Homo sapiens: one gene and its partners. The protein of the gene in region 2 interacts with the protein of the main gene of each other region in a biochemical or structural test. Each region holds a gene or a part of one and is shown on either strand. Other genes may lie near its edges. The genes, in order: TAP1, TAPBP and TAP2.

Region 1 (6,117 bases), 470 kb from region 2:
CGTTGCTCCCTGCTTGGCTGAGCACTGCGGAGTTTCACGCCTCTAAACCCCGCCTCTTCTTGCAACCTGTGTTGGCCTCATCTACCCAGCAACTGTCGACGTCACACGACCTGGGCCTCCCTGAATGGGAGATATTTACTAGGCAATCCCGCCTACTGTTCTGAGGTTTCCCCTCCAGGTGCAGCTTCAGAGCCAGGCGAGCCAGGAAGGACCAGCGGGCGAGGTGGTGAGTTGTGAGGCGCGCCCAGTCCCTCTGTTCCCGCCTGGCACTTGCTCTGGCCGCGCCCGCCCCATCTGCCACTTCGGAGAGGCCACGGCTCTGAGCTGCGGCCGCTAGTGCCCTGATGGGCCCTGTGGCTGGGGTCTTGCACATTCTTGGGGGTGGGCCTAAGGGGATAGGGGAAGTGGAAGGGGCCTCATAGGAATTAAAAAGCTTAAGGGAAAAGGTGATGCAGTTAGGGGGTAAAACATTGAGGATGATAAAAGAGGAGACATCCGCAGCTGAAAAGTGCGCTGCAAAAGGCAGTGGGCCGTTTGGTGTGCCGGAAACATAAGAAACCACAGTACAAAACACCAATTTTATTATAAATATCAAGAACCTACAGGGTGTTTATGGGCCAGCATATGCCTTCAGTTATGTTGAAAATAGCTGATCATCTTTCCGTACATTCTGAACATTTCTCAGTTTCAGAGTGCTGGCCACACCAAAGCATCAGCCCTGGCTCTAAACTCCGTTACAGTAAGGAATTACAAATCCTGTGTTTGTACTCCAGGAAGTCTGCATTATCACGAGGAGCTTGGAAAGGAGGTAACACACTCAAGGCAAATTTCAAGTAACTCATCCTGGAGGCAGCTGCCTACTCTGCAGCTGTGGTTCTCCACCACAGAGAGAAGAAAAGGGAGGGAGATGGAGTGCGCAGGTCTGAGAAGGCTTTCATTCTGGAGCATCTGCAGGAGCCTGCACCATGGCCCAGTAGCACCCCTTTTTCTCCATGAGCTGCTGGTGGGTTCCCCCCTCCCGGATAGCGCCTCCTTCCAGAAAGAGGATGTGGTCAGCCTGCTCCACCAGGCTGAGGTGCTGGGTGATGAGAAGCACTGAGCGGGAGTACCGCTCAGGGCTTTCGTACAGGAGCTGCTCCACCTGAGGAAAGACATCGGACCGTCAGAGCCGGGGACTACCCTCAGCCCAGGGAGACACCTGTGTTTCCAGGGCTGGGACTGACCTCACAGGATCACTGCTGGCTCTGCTAACAACCCCAAGGACACCAACGTTTCCCATTCTGAGTACTTCTCCGCAAACCCTTTGTTTCATTAAGGACTGTTTTACATGAAGGGTGCAAAAGTAGGATAAAAATGAGAACCCTAGGGTGAAACACGTGACAGAAGAATAAAGACTATTGAATAGTCCTCTTCTCTACCCATGGACTTGGCATTTTTATATTCGATTTTAAGGAAATATAACTTAGTAGTAAAGAGATGAGCATTCAAGTCAGGCAGACCTGAATTTGGGTCAAGGCTGCGCCACTCAAAAGCTATATGACCTCTATATGAGCAGCTTATTCAACCTCTTTTAACCTCCATTTTGTCATCTGTAGAATGATGATAAATGCCTAGCTCAGAAGGATTCCTAATGAATAAATGAGTGACAGTGCATGTAAACAGACTAGCTTAATTAATATTAATATGATTAGGATGGGCTGGGCCCGGTGGCTCATGCCTATAATCCTAGCACTTTGGGAGGTCAAGGAGGGAGGATCACTTGGGCCCAGGAGTTCAAGGCCAGCCTGGGCAACATAGCGGGACGCTGTCTGTACAAAAAATAATTTTTTTAAATAAACGATATTATGAGGATGGTCTTTTCCTTATGTTTCGCTTTAGAAATTCAGTCTATAGGACTGGGCGCAGTGGCTCACACCTATAACCCCAGCCCTTTGGGAGGCTGAGGGGGGCAGATTACCTGAGCTCAGGAATTCAAGGCCAGCCTGGGCAACATGGTGAAACCCATCTCTACTAAAAATATAAAAGTCAACCAGGCATAGTGGTGTACACCTGTAGTCCCAGCTACTCGGGAGGCTGAGGGGAGAATCGCTTGAGCCCAGCAGGTTGAAGCTGCAGTGAGCCAAGATTGTGCCACTGCGCTCCAGCCTGGGCAACTGAGTGAGACACTGTCTTAAAAAAAAAAAAGGAAAGAAAGAAAGAAATTCAGTCTGTAGTTTGTAGATAGTCTCTTTTAACTGATTCTAGGTGTCTTTGCCTCGTCTTCTATCTCTACTCCTTGGGGAGGCATCCAATGGAACTGGATTTGGGAACTGAGAACTGCAAGGACTGGTTTGTATAATTATGATGTTAGTAAAACTAACAGAAGATGTATAAAAGAAGCAAGATTGGGTGGGATATAGCCATTAAGAAGATGACTGCCTCACCTGTAACTGGCTGTTTGCATCCAGGGCACTGGTGGCATCATCCAGGATAAGTACACACGGTTTCCGGATCAATGCTCGGGCCAACGCCACTGCCTGTCGCTGACCCCCTGACAGCTGGCTCCCAGCCTCGTCTACCTCTGCAGAGCAAAGGGCCAAGATGAGAACGGTATAGCCACATGTGTGCACGCATGTACATGCACACAGACACACTCATGCATTCACGCACTCACACACACCAAGATCTGACGGTTGTAGCTGGATAGGGGAGATTCTGGGAAGATGAACAGAATCCTGAGGATGTCAGGATGAAGAAGCCATAGGAGCATGATCTTACAACTTCAAATTGATGTCCATGAGTAAGGAGGAACTGAAGGATAAAGGCAAGACTACTGGGGTTTCAGCAAAGGTAAAGATGGCTGGGTGGTGAGATGAGTGGAGAGAGTACCTGTGTCATAGCCCTGAGGGAGTCCAGAGATGAAACTATGGGCCCCAGACTTTACTGCAGCAGCTGTGATTTCCTCCATAGTTGGCTTCTGGGTCAGGCCATAGGCAATATTTTCTTGAAGACTTCTTCCAAATACCTGTGGCTCTTGTCCCACTGCAGCCACCTGAGATGAAATATGATGAAGAGTCATAGAACAAGGCACATGGGAGTATGGTTATCTAGAGATCGAAGACTCAAAATCTTTATTGAGAACATGTCACAAAATCATACTACCTCCCTCCTGACTACACCACCATCTCCACCCAAGGTCTCTTATCATTCCCTAACCCCTCTTTCAGAGTGCTCAGTAAGAATGCTCTTCGTATTTGATGCTCCCTGCCCTCCTTCAAGCCACCTGCTTCCATACCTGCCTGTGCAGGTAGCGGTGCTCATATTGGGGAAGGGGCTTCCCATCCAACAGCAGCTGTCCCCCGGTGGGCTGGTACAGATTCTGCAGCAGGGCAGCCACTGTGCTCTTCCCAGACCCATTGGGTCCCACCAGCGCCGTCACCTCGCCAGGGCGTAGGGTGAATGTCAGCCCCTAGAGGCCAGAGAAGCACACGATAAGAGGCTACCAAGGCCTCTAACCTTGAGAGTGTCATTGCCTTGTTACATAGCATGATGTCTTACCCCAGAAGAAAAACAGGGAAATATAGAAACTCCTACCCTCCCACATGCACAGATTTCTGGGTGATGCCTCCCCAAGGAGTAGAGATAGAAGAAGCGGCAAAGACAAGGGCAGAGACCCAGCACCACTATGCCACACACTTGATGTCAGATACCACCAGGAAAGGGAAAAATCACATTCCAAATTACAAAGGAAAAGGAAAGATGGAAGACCGAAGACACAGATTTTGCTGCAGCAATTCCTTGGAACGTGAGAGCACTCTCTTCGAAACCTCTTCTCTCATTCTCTTTGGAAGCCCAAACTGGGTTCTTGAGTTTGGGGAAGATTTATGGAACAGATGATGCCTACCATTGCCTTTAAAGGGTTAGGGAGGATATATGCTTGGCAGTAAGCAGGCTGAAGGCAGGAAGAAAATTTAGGATGGCAGAATTGCAGTTGGGGCCAGTGGAATACAGGGAGTGGTAGGTTGTACCTGTAGCACTAAGACATCTGGGCGGTTTGGGTAGGCAAAGGAGACATCTTGGAACTGGACAAGGCCCTCCAAGTGTAAGGGAGTCAACAGACCACTGGGTGGGCAGCGAGGGGTGCGGTCCAGGTACTCAAATATTTTCTCTGAGGAGCCCACAGCCTTCTGTACTCTGGGGTAGATGGAGAGCAGTACCTAGAGGGAGGTAAGAATAGTGAAAGTGAGGTAGTCTGCTTGCCAGCATTATGTGAAGCAAGAAGGGTAAAGAATGGAAGGACATCACACAGATGGTGCTGGGCCAGAGGAAGGAATCACACTGGGGAGTGAAGGTGGAGGGACCTCACCTCCACAGCCTGGGTGAACTGCATCTGGTAGAGAACAAATGTGACAAGGTTCCCACTGCTTACAGCCCCACTGGTCACCAGCTGCCCACCAATGTAGAGGATTCCCACTTTCAGCAGCATACCTGAAATCTATAAAGAGACCACAAAAAAAGGGACTGAGGTAGAGAAATCTGGAGGGGACACAAAGAACCGCAGTCATTAACCTGAAGGAAATATCAAGTCCCTGTCTCCTAAGTGACATCGGCAGGCTCAATAGGCAGACAGGAGAATGAACCAGAGACCCCATGGAGTCTGACTCAATGCACATCATGCAAGTCACAGTTATCTTCACCACCATCACCACTATCACCTTGTCTGGGGAGCATTTTACTCTTCACAAAAGGCTTTCATTCATGTGATGTCAGCTAATACATGAAGAGCCTTATAAAGAAGGTTATATCACTCCATTTTTGAAAAATGAGGAAACAACCAGTCGGGCGCAGTGGCTCATGCCTGCAATTCCAGCACTTTGGGAGGCCGAAGTGGGCGGATCACAAGGTCAGGAGATTGAGACCATCCTGGCTAACACGGAGAAACCTCGTCTCTACTAAAAATACAAAAAAAAAAAAAAAATTAGCCGGGCGTGGTGGCGGGTGCCTGTAGTCCCAGCTACTCAGGAGGCTGAGGCGGGAGAACGGCGTGAACCCGGGAGGCGGAGCTTGCAGTGAGCCCAGATCGCGCCACTGCACTCCAGCCTGGGCGACAAAGCGAGACTCCAGCTCAAAAATAATAATAATAAGTAAAAATAAACAAACAAACAAACAAATAAATAAATAAAGAGGAAACAGTCTCAGAGAAGGTAAATTTGTTGTCATGATCACAAGACAAGTAAATTGCATCATCAAGCCAGGATCTTCGGATCACTGGCGTAGCTCTCTTTCCAGTGCATCACAGATGTCCCTCATCCCTGGCTTCCACTATTCCCATCACTCTCACTAACAAATCTACAAGGTACCAGCATGAAGCAGTCCCAGGTGCAAGAATTTATGGCGCCCTGCACTTCCCCTGAGAGGCAAAGGAAGGCCCTAGGACTGGAAGACACGCATCTCTCCAATCCACATGGTTGGGTGGATTTTATGTACCATACTGAAAGGAAGCCACCTAGCATCTTTAAAGAGAGGGAGGGGGCTAGGGACACTGAGTAGAGTCATTGAGCCTCAGGTTGCTAGGACGAAAATACTGAACCAACCATTTCCCAGTAAAGGAGGAGTGGGAGCAGGGTCATAGGAATGGGAATGGAGTCACGGCATCTTAAGGACAAGGGAATGGGTATTCATCTTCAGGTGCTCACACTAGTGGTCCAGGAGTTGACTGCATAGGCCACAGCCTCCTTCTGGTTGAGTGTCTTTATTTCTTGCAGCTTTTCCCTAAACTTCTGGGCTTCGCCCTCCTCGTTGGCAAAGCTTCGAACTGTAGGCATGGCCGACAGAGCCTCAATGGCCACCTGGCTGGACTTTGCCAGAGATTCCCGCACCTGCACTTCCAGCAACTGTGGATACATGGACAAGAGATGTCACACGGGTTGGCAAACCATCAGGGACACTAATACCTGAGTTACCTATTTGGAAATTAAAGGTGAGAAGAGACAGAGGAAAAGGAGAAAAGAGAAAGAGACACAGCTATGCCCCTTGGATGCTAAAGAAATACGAGGAAGAGGAAAATGACTCAGAACGGGTTGGGGATCAAATTCTTAAAGACAGATTGTGGGGAGAAGCTAGAAAAGAAGACCCAGA
Region 2 (7,679 bases):
TCAGACTCTGATTAGCTGCCTCCCCTTCTCCCTGCCTCCAGAATGTTCTGGGATAACATTTGGAGGAAGGTGGGAAGCAGATGACTGAGGAAGGGATGGACTAAGCTAATCCCCTTTTGGTGGTGTTTCTTTAAAAAAAAAAAAAAGCTTAAGTTTTACACAGAAACATTAATAAACAATAAAGTTCTTTTCTTACTGTATCACTGTCTTTTTCTTGTCCTTCTACTGTTACAGATTGGCATTAGCTGTCCCCTTGCTCAGGGTTAGCCCAGTATCCCCGGGGTAGTCCCGCTCTGTCCTTTCTAGCCTGGCCTTTTTTTTTTTTTTTTTTTTTTTGTCTCGCTGTGTCGCCCAGGCCAGGGTGCAGTGGTGAGATCACAGCTCACTGCAGCCTGGACCTCCCAGTCTCAAGCGATAATGCCTCAGCCTCCCGAGTAGCCGGGACTACAGGCGCGTGCCACCATGCCTGGCTAATTTTTGTTTTTGTTGTTTGTATTTTTTGTAGAGACGGGGTTTCGCCACGTTGTTCAGGCAGTACTTTTTTTTTTTTTTAAGTGCTTCAGCCGCCTTAACGCACTTTACTTTTTCACTTCGTGCAGTAGGAGTGAGAAAGCCAATGAGGGGCCGACTCAAGGTTATTTAGCCAATCCAGGCCCGGAGAAAGGGGGCGGGGCTTCAGTGGGACTGTAAGGAGCTAGGAAGAGGGCGATTAGATCCCACCAACCAGCTAATGGTCACAGCTCAGAGGCGGAGCCTGGGGAACGATACCTGGACCCATCGCCAATGGGAAAAGGCAGGCTTATAGCTTTAAAGGGGAATAAATGCTTCGGCCGAACCAAGTCCTGAGCTCCCAGCGGAGGAGGGGACCTGATCTTTTAAGGTGGAATGTGGCGATGTTTCTTTAAAGGCAAAGTGGCCGAGTCGGCCGAGTATTGCCCAGCGGCACGGGCGGGGTGCCCGGCTGTGCCTTTAAAGGCGGAGGGGCGGGAGGCGGAGCGGAGGCGGAGGGCGGAGGGAGTCGGCGCAAGATGGCGGCGGGAGGGGCCCAGGTTGCTGCTCTGGCCGCCGAGTGAGGGGCGGGGGGGGCCCGGGGGCGCGCGGCCCGGTAAGCGGGGACGCGCGAGGTTGGGGGGCGCCTTCCGGGTGGGAGAAGAGGCCGAGGTAGCGCTTGGGGCGGAGCGGGGGGGGGCGGGGTCCGTTGTGGGCGGAGGTAGACAAGGGGCGGGGTCGAAAGGCCCGATAGTGGGCGGGGCACGGGGGGGTGGGCCTGGAAAGGGGCGGGGCTAGAGAAGCTGGGGCGAAAGGGGGCGTGGTCGGCGAGAGAGCTTGGGGGGCATAGCCTGAGGGGAGATGGAGCAAGCGTTGGTTTTCAGTAGCAGAGCTGCCCTGCCCCCTCCCAAAAAGTGGGTGCAAAACACCAAAAAGGTAGATTTTGGAATGTCAGGCTCTCAGGTAAGTCGGAAATAGGGTATAATTCCGAAGGAAGCCACTCCAGCCCCTAAGAGCACCTTATTTCTCTAACCTCCAAGGAAAGGGCACAAGATTTGTCAGATACCTGTGTTTGCTGGCGCTGCCACTTGCTGTGTGACCTTGGATAATCTCTTAATCTTTCTGAGCTTTAGTTTCCTCATCTGTCAAATGGGGTTGAGAGGAATACCTACCTCACTGTTGTGGGGAGTTACACAGATAATGAGCGTGAACATATTTTTGAGTTGTAACGGGCTGTGTCGTTATGAGATGTTATCATTATTCTTTTCTCTTTTTCTTCCCAGAGACCCCCCCGGCCGCCCTCCTCCTTTCTTTGTTCCTGTGGCTGGGGGGGTATCCCCTCCCTCCACAACATGGAGCCATCTCCTCTGTCTCCCAGTGGGGCAGCACTTCCCCTGCCGCTGTCGCTGGCTCCGCCCCCACTACCCCTGCCAGCAGCTGCAGTGGTACATGTGTCCTTCCCTGAGGTGACCAGTGCCCTCTTGGAGTCCCTCAATCAGCAGCGTCTGCAGGGCCAGCTCTGCGATGTATCTATCAGAGTGCAGGGCCGGGAGTTCCGGGCTCATCGGGCTGTCCTGGCTGCCTCCTCCCCTTACTTCCATGATCAGGTCCTACTCAAAGGCATGACCTCCATCTCGCTGCCCAGTGTCATGGACCCAGGCGCCTTTGAGACTGTCCTAGCCTCCGCTTACACTGGCCGCCTCAGCATGGCTGCTGCTGACATTGTCAACTTCCTTACAGTGGGGTCTGTGCTCCAAATGTGGCACATTGTGGACAAGTGCACTGAACTACTCCGAGAAGGCCGGGCCTCAGCTACCACCACCATCACTACTGCTGCAGCCACCTCTGTCACTGTCCCTGGTGCTGGGGTGCCATCCGGGAGTGGGGGCACTGTGGCCCCTGCTACCATGGGCTCTGCGCGCTCCCATGCCTCCAGCCGGGCCAGTGAGAATCAATCTCCCAGCAGCAGCAACTACTTCAGCCCCAGGGAGTCCACTGATTTCTCATCTTCCTCCCAAGAGGCATTTGCAGCTTCTGCAGTGGGCAGTGGGGAGCGTCGAGGAGGTGGCCCTGTATTCCCAGCCCCTGTCGTTGGCAGTGGAGGGGCCACATCTGGAAAGCTGCTGCTGGAGGCAGATGAGCTGTGCGATGATGGTGGGGATGGGAGGGGGGCAGTGGTTCCTGGGGCTGGGCTCCGGAGACCCACCTACACACCCCCTAGCATCATGCCACAGAAACACTGGGTATACGTGAAGCGAGGTGGTAATTGCCCAGCGCCAACACCCCTGGTTCCCCAAGACCCAGATCTGGAGGAGGAAGAGGAGGAGGAAGATCTGGTGTTGACCTGTGAGGATGATGAAGATGAAGAACTAGGGGGTAGCTCCAGGGTTCCAGTGGGGGGAGGGCCTGAGGCTACCCTCAGCATAAGTGATGTCCGTACCCTGAGTGAGCCCCCAGACAAGGGGGAGGAGCAGGTCAACTTCTGTGAGTCCTCCAATGACTTTGGCCCATATGAGGGTGGGGGTCCTGTGGCAGGTCTTGATGACTCAGGGGGGCCAACTCCCTCTTCCTATGCCCCCTCCCACCCTCCTCGACCGCTCCTTCCCTTGGACATGCAGGGCAACCAGATCCTGGTCTTCCCGTCGTCGTCTTCATCCTCATCCTCACAGGCTCCTGGCCAACCACCAGGGAACCAAGCAGAACACGGGGCAGTGACCGTGGGGGGCACGTCGGTGGGGAGCCTGGGTGTGCCGGGTAGCGTTGGTGGGGTCCCTGGAGGGACTGGCAGTGGGGACGGGAATAAGATCTTTCTGTGCCATTGTGGGAAGGCCTTCTCCCACAAGAGCATGCGGGACCGGCACGTGAACATGCACCTCAATCTGCGGCCGTTTGACTGCCCCGTGTGCAACAAAAAGTTCAAGATGAAGCACCATCTGACTGAGCACATGAAGACGCACACAGGTCTCAAGCCCTACGAGTGCGGAGTCTGCGCCAAGAAGTTCATGTGGCGAGACAGCTTCATGCGCCACCGAGGACACTGTGAGCGCCGGCACCGCCTGGGCGGGGTCGGGGCCGTACCTGGGCCTGGGACTCCCACGGGGCCATCCTTGCCGTCCAAGAGAGAGTCTCCCGGAGTGGGCGGGGGCAGCGGCGACGAAGCGAGTGCGGCCACGCCCCCGTCCAGCAGACGTGTCTGGTCCCCACCCAGAGTCCACAAGGTGGAGATGGGCTTCGGTGGAGGTGGAGGAGCAAACTGAAGGGGCAGGCTACTGGGGTGGGGTAGCTTTCGGGAAAGGGAATAAGGAGCACGATGCAAGGGCGCTGTGGCCCCCGGGTGATCTCCCACCACACTTACTGTCTTCCTTTATCTCTGTGGACTTGTATATATTCTGGAAGGGGAACCACAGTTTCACCATCGCCCGCCCATTCTACTACTCAACCCCTCCCCCCCAAGGTATTTCCAGAACTAAACCCTTCCTTTCCCTCTGATGGGTACACTGAAGCCCCTGCTCCACAGAGTAGATTGCACATGGAGGGAGGGAGAGGGGGCGTGTTGAACATCCTGCAGTCACAGGGTCAGGGGTCAGGTGGTTGTAGTCTGTGCCTGAAGTCTGTGTTTGTGTTGTCGTGGAGACAAGGCCTTTGAGCCCCACCCTTGTCCTAGAACCTACCCCCTCTCAAGGATGCGCTCTTTATTTCTACCCTGTCTCTCCCCGCCACCCCCGACTTCCCGTGGAAATTCCCAACTCGGTTCTCATGGAGGAGTGGGTGGAGACAAGGAGGGAGTAAGTCGTAGGAGTACAAGGTTTTTATTTTTTTTAACAGTGATTAAAATATTTATTGGTCATTTACTTGGCTTCCCGATAACCCGTGTGTTTGCTGGGGACGCGGCACAGATAGGGGGAAGCCGGAGTAATGGTTTTCGGGCAAGTGGATGTTGGAGAGCACACACAGGAGTTGGGGGGCGGGGGAGGGCCTGGGGTTGGGGAGGGCTCGAACTCGGGGCTGCTGGGTAGTCCAGGAGGGCGCGGTAAGGCTGGGGTGTCCTGGTGAGAACTGGAGAGGATCTACCCGGGTCCCTGCCTGGCCAGTGGGGAAACACCGGTCCCCCAGGCACCTTCACCTAACCAGAGCGGGGATTTCCACCGCCCCTCATGCCGCCCTTTGGAGGAAAGTGAAAGTGAAAGGAGGAAGAGGAGGCTTCATGGCTGAGGAGGTCGCAGCGCCATGAAGTCCCTGTCTCTGCTCCTCGCTGTGGCTTTGGGTGAGCGAACCCCGCGACTCATCGCCCAAGAACTAGAGGGAAGCGGAGGGAGGTGGCCCCACTGGAGCCGATGCCAGGGTGGGAGTGGGGCAGGTCACCAGACATACAAACCGCTCCTCACTCGCGTCCCTATACGCCAGGCCTGGCGACCGCCGTCTCAGCAGGACCCGCGGTGATCGAGTGTTGGTTCGTGGAGGATGCGAGCGGAAAGGGCCTGGCCAAGAGACCCGGTGCACTGCTGTTGCGCCAGGGACCGGGGGAACCGCCGCCCCGGCCGGACCTCGACCCTGAGCTCTATCTCAGTGTACACGGTGAGTCTCTAGGGACTCGCCGCCCCCCTACCTCTGTCGCCTCCACCGAAACCCCCTCCTCTTTAGATCCGGCAGTGACCTCAGGCCTCAGCTTCCCCTTTGTAAAGTGAGTCTCACTACGGGGTAGTCTGTGCATTTGAAGTTCCCCGAACGCTGCCCTTCCAGCCCCTTTCCCGGCGGTGACTCTACAGCTGCAACTTCCTTCTCTACACTCAGACCCCGCGGGCGCCCTCCAGGCTGCCTTCAGGCGGTATCCCCGGGGCGCCCCCGCACCACACTGCGAGATGAGCCGCTTCGTGCCTCTCCCCGCCTCTGCGAAATGGGCCAGCGGCCTGACCCCCGCGCAGAACTGCCCGCGGGCCCTGGATGGGGCTTGGCTGATGGTCAGCATATCCAGCCCAGTCCTCAGCCTCTCCAGCCTCTTGCGACCACAGCCAGAGCCTCAGCAGGAGCCTGTTCTCATCACCATGGCAACAGGTAGCTGGGGAGGGGAGGTGGAGAAGGGTGGGTAGATTCTAAGGGTCCAGATCAGCCGGTGGTCTCGCTTTATGGACTTGAGCAAGACATTTCGCCAATCGGGGTTCAGTTTCCTTTTTTTGTTAAGAGAGGTGGTTTGGCTAGAATGAATCAATCTCTACCGCTCCTTCTAGCCCTCACCCAGTTAAAAAAAAAAAACAAAAAAAAAACTGCAGCTTGGCAGGGGGTAGGGGGAAAGCAGGGCCGGGCAGGGGGGTTACTTTCTGGTGTTTCGAAGGGCGGGGCTTTGAAGAGGTGGGGTTTCCCGACACCAGACCTTGAGAGACTTGTCAGGTGATGCGAGGTGGGAGGGGTTCAGAAGCAGGAGCGTTTTTTCTCTGCTCTTCCCAGATCTGTGTCTTGCTCTGCACCCTCAGCTTTGCGGGTCACTCTTTCAAAACCCAGCACTCTATCCCCACCTGCGCCCACACCCGGCGCTGCGGCAATCCGCAAAGCAAAGGCTCTTGCACTCTAGCGCGTTGACCTTGCCTGACAGCCCCGTGTAGGGATGTGCTGCCGCTCTGTGGTCCGCAAACAGGTGGGCTCGAGTGGGCGGATGGACGCGGCTGGAGATTGGATAGCTCCTATTGCACTGAAAGGTGCATTGCAGTTTGAGGCCCAGGAGTCAGAAGCTTTTCTAGGCTGGGACGTGGGAGGGACTGTGCAGATAATTCAAGAATGAGGAGAGTCTGACCTGGATATCTGGGAGCTCTCCCTCCTGGCAGCGGAGGCGGGGTATTCCGGGGTAGAATACCGGTAGAGTTCTTAGCTTTTCTATCTGGATTTTATGTCAGCGACACAGCCCGATGGACAGGGCAACCCCAACCAATCCCTGCACCCTCCCTTCCCTCCACCCTCCTGAGAATTACCCACAGAACCAGGGAGACAGACTTGAAACCCACGCTGAAACCCTCACCTCTGCCTATACCTCCATTCTTAGTCTCAAGCCCCCACCCTGGCAGAAGCTGAGGAACACTGCTCTTGTGTAGACAGTAGCTCTCTCTGGTGGGGTGGAATATTTCCTAGGGCTACTGGCTCCACCGAGGTGATGATGAGAATGGTCTTTGCTTTCTGAGTTTGTTTTTCCAACTGTAAAATGTGGATACTATTTCCCAGCTGCTTTTCTTGTTGTGACTATCAAGAGATGGCACTGTGTTAATTTATCCATTGATTCAATAAATACTTTTTAGCACCAAGAATGAGTTAGGACTCAGCAGTTCTCAGTCCACACTGTTGGAGGTTTCTAAAATATACTGAAACCTGATTCAATCCCATGCTTAGCTTGGCCGATTAAATCAGAATCTCTGGGGTGGCCCTGGGTGCCCTTAAGGGTCACAAAGATGATCTGATGTAGACTCTGCTCTCCAGGAGGTTCTGGGCGTATTTGCCACGGATAATCCTAATGTAAAGTAGAAAGTGAAGGACATGCAGACAGGGAGCCCTGGAAGTGCCCGGGTGGTAAGATTGTCTGTATTTCACAAACAACTGGGGTCAAAGCAAGGTGCTGTGCTATTTATTTATTTTTATTTTATTTATTTATTTATTTTTGAGACAGAGTTTTGCTCTTGTTGCCCAGGCTGGAGTGCAATGGCGTGATCTCACGCTCACCGGAACCTCCGCCTCCCTGGTTCAAGCAATTCTCCTGCCTCAGCCTCCCGAGTAGCTGGGATTACAGGTGCCTGCCACCACACCCAGCTAATTTTGTATTTTTAGTAGAGATGAGGTTTCTCCATGTTGGTAAGGCTGGTCTCGAACTCCCAACTTCAGGTGATCCTCCCACCTCGCCTCCCGAAGTGCTGGGATTACAAGCGTGAGCCACTGCGCCTGCCTGCTATTTATTTATTTATTTATTTTTGAGACGGAGTCTCCCTCTTATTGCCCAGGCTAGAGTGCAGTTGCAGTGGCATGATCTTGGCTCACTGCAACCTCCGTCTCCCATGTTCAAGCAATTCTTGTGCCTTAGCCTCCCCAGTAGCTGGGATTACAGGCTTGTGCCACCACGCCCACCTAATTTTTGTATTTTTATTGGAGACAGGTTTCACCATGTTGGCCAGGATGGTCTTGAACTCCTGACCTAAGGTGATCCACCCACCTTGGCC
Region 3 (3,946 bases), 490 kb from region 2:
ATTTCTCATTCTGATTTTCCAATATTTTAGACAGATTTGTTATTGTTGTTTGTGTGTGTGTTTATTTTTCTCATCTTTGCTCCCTTATCCTTCTGGGTTTAGTATCTCTGTTACTTACATGATAATATTAAAAAGCAAATGATAACTACAATACAATGCTACTTTCACCCAGAAGATTGTCAAAATTTTAAAAATTAACACTGTCTGTTGGTTATATACATATATATATATATGGAGAAACAGATAAACTCATATGTTGCTGCTGGAACTATAAATTAATATAGCCTCTATGAAGGCAATTTTGCAATATCTATCAATATTTGTAATGTATATATTGGACTCAGCAACTCCCCTTTAAGATTGTATCATACTTGTATTTTTGCACATGTGCATTACAATGTCTATACAAGACTAACTAGCAACAGCAAAAGACTTCCAATAACCTAACTAGCCATCAGTAGAAGGAAACAGGATAAATGAAATATGGAACTTCCATAAAATAGAATACTACATAGCCATATATTTTTAATTTAAAAAATAAAGTTCAGAACAGTGAACTTAGACAGCTGCTGTTTGCGAAAATACTGAGCAAGAATAAAGATATACATATTTGCTTAATACACAGTAAACTTCTCTGGAAAGATAAACACAAAGCTGGAAGAACGGATTGCCTATGCAAGAGGAATTAGCAAACCTTGAGAAGGATTGAGAGTGAGGCTTTCCTCTGTATACTTCTTTGTGTCTTTTGAATTTCAAACCACATTCATATATTGCTTATTTAAATAAATAAATAATATATTTTAAAAAGAGGATAGTAGGAAGATAAGTGGAGTCAGGGAGTATAGGCAACTCTTTTGAGGAGTTTTATGCAAAGCTGGGCAAGTCCACCTCTTCCTTAGCTATGTGACCCAGGCAAGTTAGTAAATGTTTCTAAAACTCCATTTTCTCACTCTTAGAATTGAGATAGTAATACCTGCCACATAGAATTATCTTGAAAAATAAGGTAAGAAGACAGGTTTCAGATACTTGGCACAGCAATAGCACATAGTAAGCACCAGTGAATGCTTAGTAGTAGTAGTAGTCTAATTCCTAAGAGTCCATGGAACTCTAGGTTCAAAACCCAGTTTCTTCTGGGACCATTAGATGGCATCAGACTCAAGCAGGTGCTCCTCTAGCTGACAGCTCTAAAACACAAGGAAGATCTTTGTTTTCCTTATTCCCTAGTCCTTTCCCCACAAAATTCTGACAATTACGCATTTCCTGCTTGTTTCACAATTGCCATGTGGATTACAAGTGGCTATCCCTGGGTGGAGGCATAAAGGACTTGAAACTCAATGCTGTTTCCACATAGGGCCGGGCAGACAGGCTATGGAGGTGTTTTGGCATCCAAGGAAATCTATCAGTTTCCCAAGCTTTCCCCTCTCCATTCATACTTTCCTTTAGAAAGAATAAGGCATGCCTGGGTGGGAAAGATACTGCAGGTAAGCGACAAGAAGGGGAAATTACAGGGTAAGGAGATCAATCAAATGGTGATGGGGGGTAGGAGTGAACAAAAAGAACTCTGGAGCAAACCAGGATTAGTGACATCTGTGGTTCCCAGACAAACCACACTTACAGGAATTTGTCTGTCTAGCCCGAATATTTTGACTTTCAGGGAGCATTTTTCTGTGTCCCTGACATAAAGCCTACCTGGGAGTTTCCCCTGAGATAAGAAACTTTCAGGACATCTTAAGGTCTACTGCATCTTCCTGTACTGCCCATCAAGATAAGTTTTCCACCCAGCTTTATCATGATTAGCTGCGTGATTTCATGTCAGTTTCTCTGTAAAATTAGGTTTGACTGTTGCATTATTTTTAAGATGCCTTCCAGGCTTAAAGTATTATGATGCATGGGTATAACTGTACTGAGGAAATCAAAGAATTTCTCAGATCATCTTCTTCTGTGAGGGCTGCAGCTTCCATGTAGTTGGGAGATACAGGAATTATTATTCCTGTTTTATGAATAAAGGACATTTGTGGGAGAGAAAGGAATCAGGCCAGAGTTCTTTCTCTCCAAATGCCTATTTTACCCTCTGTGAAATTTGAGAGATGGATGGGTGTGGAGCTGCAAGTCAGCCCCAGGATGAAAGAAAGGCAAATCTGCACAAGAAACTGCCCACTCTCACCCCATCCTCACTGCACCCTGCTCCCAACAGCTGCCAGGCAAGAAAAAATCCAAAACAGCAGTTCTGGGGAATTCATTGCCAGCACTGGAAACTACCTGCTGTTTCCAGGAATATGAAGGTTTCTCTTTCCTAGAATAGCAACTTTCCAAGGTAAGTCCCTCCCAACAACCAGTGATGTGTACAATGTTGCATTTTCAGTGGTGGGAGTGGGCAGGGAGGATTAAGATTAGTACGATGGTGGAGATATTTATTCATTTATTCAATTGACTATTTATTCTCCACTATGAATTAGGCCCTCGGCCAGGTAGCAGATATAAAGCTTAATAAGATATATGGCTTTCCGCCCAGGTGCTCATGGTCTAGTGGAAGGTCAAAAAAGGTGGGAAAGGGAAGATAGAACTTTAAAAGGGCTGTGAAAGAGGTAACCGCACAGTGATAGAAGCACATGGAGAGTTCCCCAGACTGACGACATAAGTAAGGCCTCCTGGAAGACCTGAACCCTGAGTTAAGTCTTGAACTTGAAAATCAGGGGCGAGTCGAGCAGAAAATGGGCAAGAAAACACCATATGCAAAGGCACAAAGGTGTTGGGGAAGGCAGAAGTTTGTCGTGGAGCTGGATACAACAGGAGAGGGTGAGACAGATGGGCTGGAACAGTGTGTGCTCTGAAAAGGATCTCTGCAGCAGGGCTTGAGAGCACCTGAAGGAATTTCCAGAAATGCCATCATCGTATGTGACACAGAATTTAGAAAAATGACTTTGTGAAGAATGGCCGGAAGAGGGAAGCTAATGGTAGAGAAACCTCTCTGGTGATGGGATCATCTTAAGTCTATGAGTGAAGACTATAACAACGGGACTGGAGAGAAGAGAATAGATTCTGAATTATTTAGAGCTAAGAGCAGCAGAGCTTTTCTTGATGGGATTATGGATTAGGGTTTATGGACCCAAGATGCAATATAATTGATTGGGTCAGGGTGTGGACTCTAGGGTCAGGCCTGTGTTCAAACTCCAACTCCACCACTACGACCACCTTGGGAAAGTCATTGAGCCTCTTTGAGCTTCAGTTTCCTCATCTGTAAAATGGGGATAATAACCAACCTCATAGGGTTGGGGATAATGATTAAAAACGATAATACATGAAAAACACTTAGCATAGCTCCTACTCCCATTAAAACTCTATAAATGGTAGCTGTTACCAATGTCGCTATTAATACTGTTAATCAGGGAACTGTTCTCTGTCCCTCCAGACCCTAGCTTCTTCAAAATAGCAGACACTGGTAGGAACAAGGAAGGATATAGGAAGGCAATCTCATGAATATTTATGTCATTTTTGGTTAATTTCTATCTCAAACAACAGATAAACGACTGATGGGACAGGCAGCAAAATAGCAACTATGGTTATCTCCAGGAAGTGAAACAATGGGTACTTTTACTTTTCTTCTTTGTACTTTTTTATATTGTCTAAATTTTCTATATGAATGTATACAGTTCATGTAAGAAGGAAAATATTTTAAAATATATGTATTATGCCACAAAATACTCCTCATCACCAGGCAAAGCTCTAGTCACCAGGGAATTAAGTTTCCTGGACACAGACAGCCCCCACCCCACCCCACCCCACCTCTCTACCCCACCAAAAGCACACAGTGTCCAAATCTCCATCGTGCCTGCAACTCAGGAACAGCTATCTGGCCGCACAGCTCTAGGGAAACTCAAAGCAGGAACAGCTCTGGGTCCTGGAGACGCCCCTGAGAAGAGGGCCCAGTATCCCTGGGGCCTCAGTC

What was found.
Region 1: the proteins of TAPBP (region 2) and TAP1 form a complex in vitro, tested with the Homo sapiens proteins (one study listed by BioGRID).
Region 3: the proteins of TAPBP (region 2) and TAP2 form a complex in vitro, tested with the Homo sapiens proteins (one study listed by BioGRID).

What each region holds. Positions count from the first base shown.
Region 1 is NC_000006.12:32,844,645-32,850,761, forward strand, and holds the end of TAP1 (antigen peptide transporter 1), read right to left. Parts: intron 5,874-6,117; coding exon 5,676-5,873; intron 4,475-5,675; coding exon 4,346-4,474; intron 4,197-4,345; coding exon 4,008-4,196; intron 3,449-4,007; coding exon 3,275-3,448; intron 3,032-3,274; coding exon 2,869-3,031; intron 2,561-2,868; coding exon 2,424-2,560; intron 1,857-2,423; exon of another isoform or gene 1,142-1,856; coding exon 935-1,141; 3' UTR 565-934; downstream 1-564. UniProt on the Homo sapiens protein: ABC transporter associated with antigen processing. In complex with TAP2 mediates unidirectional translocation of peptide antigens from cytosol to endoplasmic reticulum (ER) for loading onto MHC class I (MHCI) molecules.
Region 2 is NC_000006.12:33,311,079-33,318,757, reverse strand, and holds the start of TAPBP (tapasin isoform 1 precursor), read left to right. Parts: upstream 1-4,679; 5' UTR 4,680-4,716; coding exon 4,717-4,753; intron 4,754-4,893; coding exon 4,894-5,064; intron 5,065-5,280; coding exon 5,281-5,541; intron 5,542-7,679. Other genes in the region: DAXX (death domain-associated protein 6), read left to right, coding at 1-15; ZBTB22 (zinc finger and BTB domain-containing protein 22), read left to right, coding at 1,842-3,746. UniProt on the Homo sapiens protein: Involved in the association of MHC class I with transporter associated with antigen processing (TAP) and in the assembly of MHC class I with peptide (peptide loading).
Region 3 is NC_000006.12:32,824,915-32,828,860, forward strand, and holds the end of TAP2 (antigen peptide transporter 2), read right to left. Parts: 3' UTR 501-3,946; downstream 1-500. UniProt on the Homo sapiens protein: ABC transporter associated with antigen processing. In complex with TAP1 mediates unidirectional translocation of peptide antigens from cytosol to endoplasmic reticulum (ER) for loading onto MHC class I (MHCI) molecules.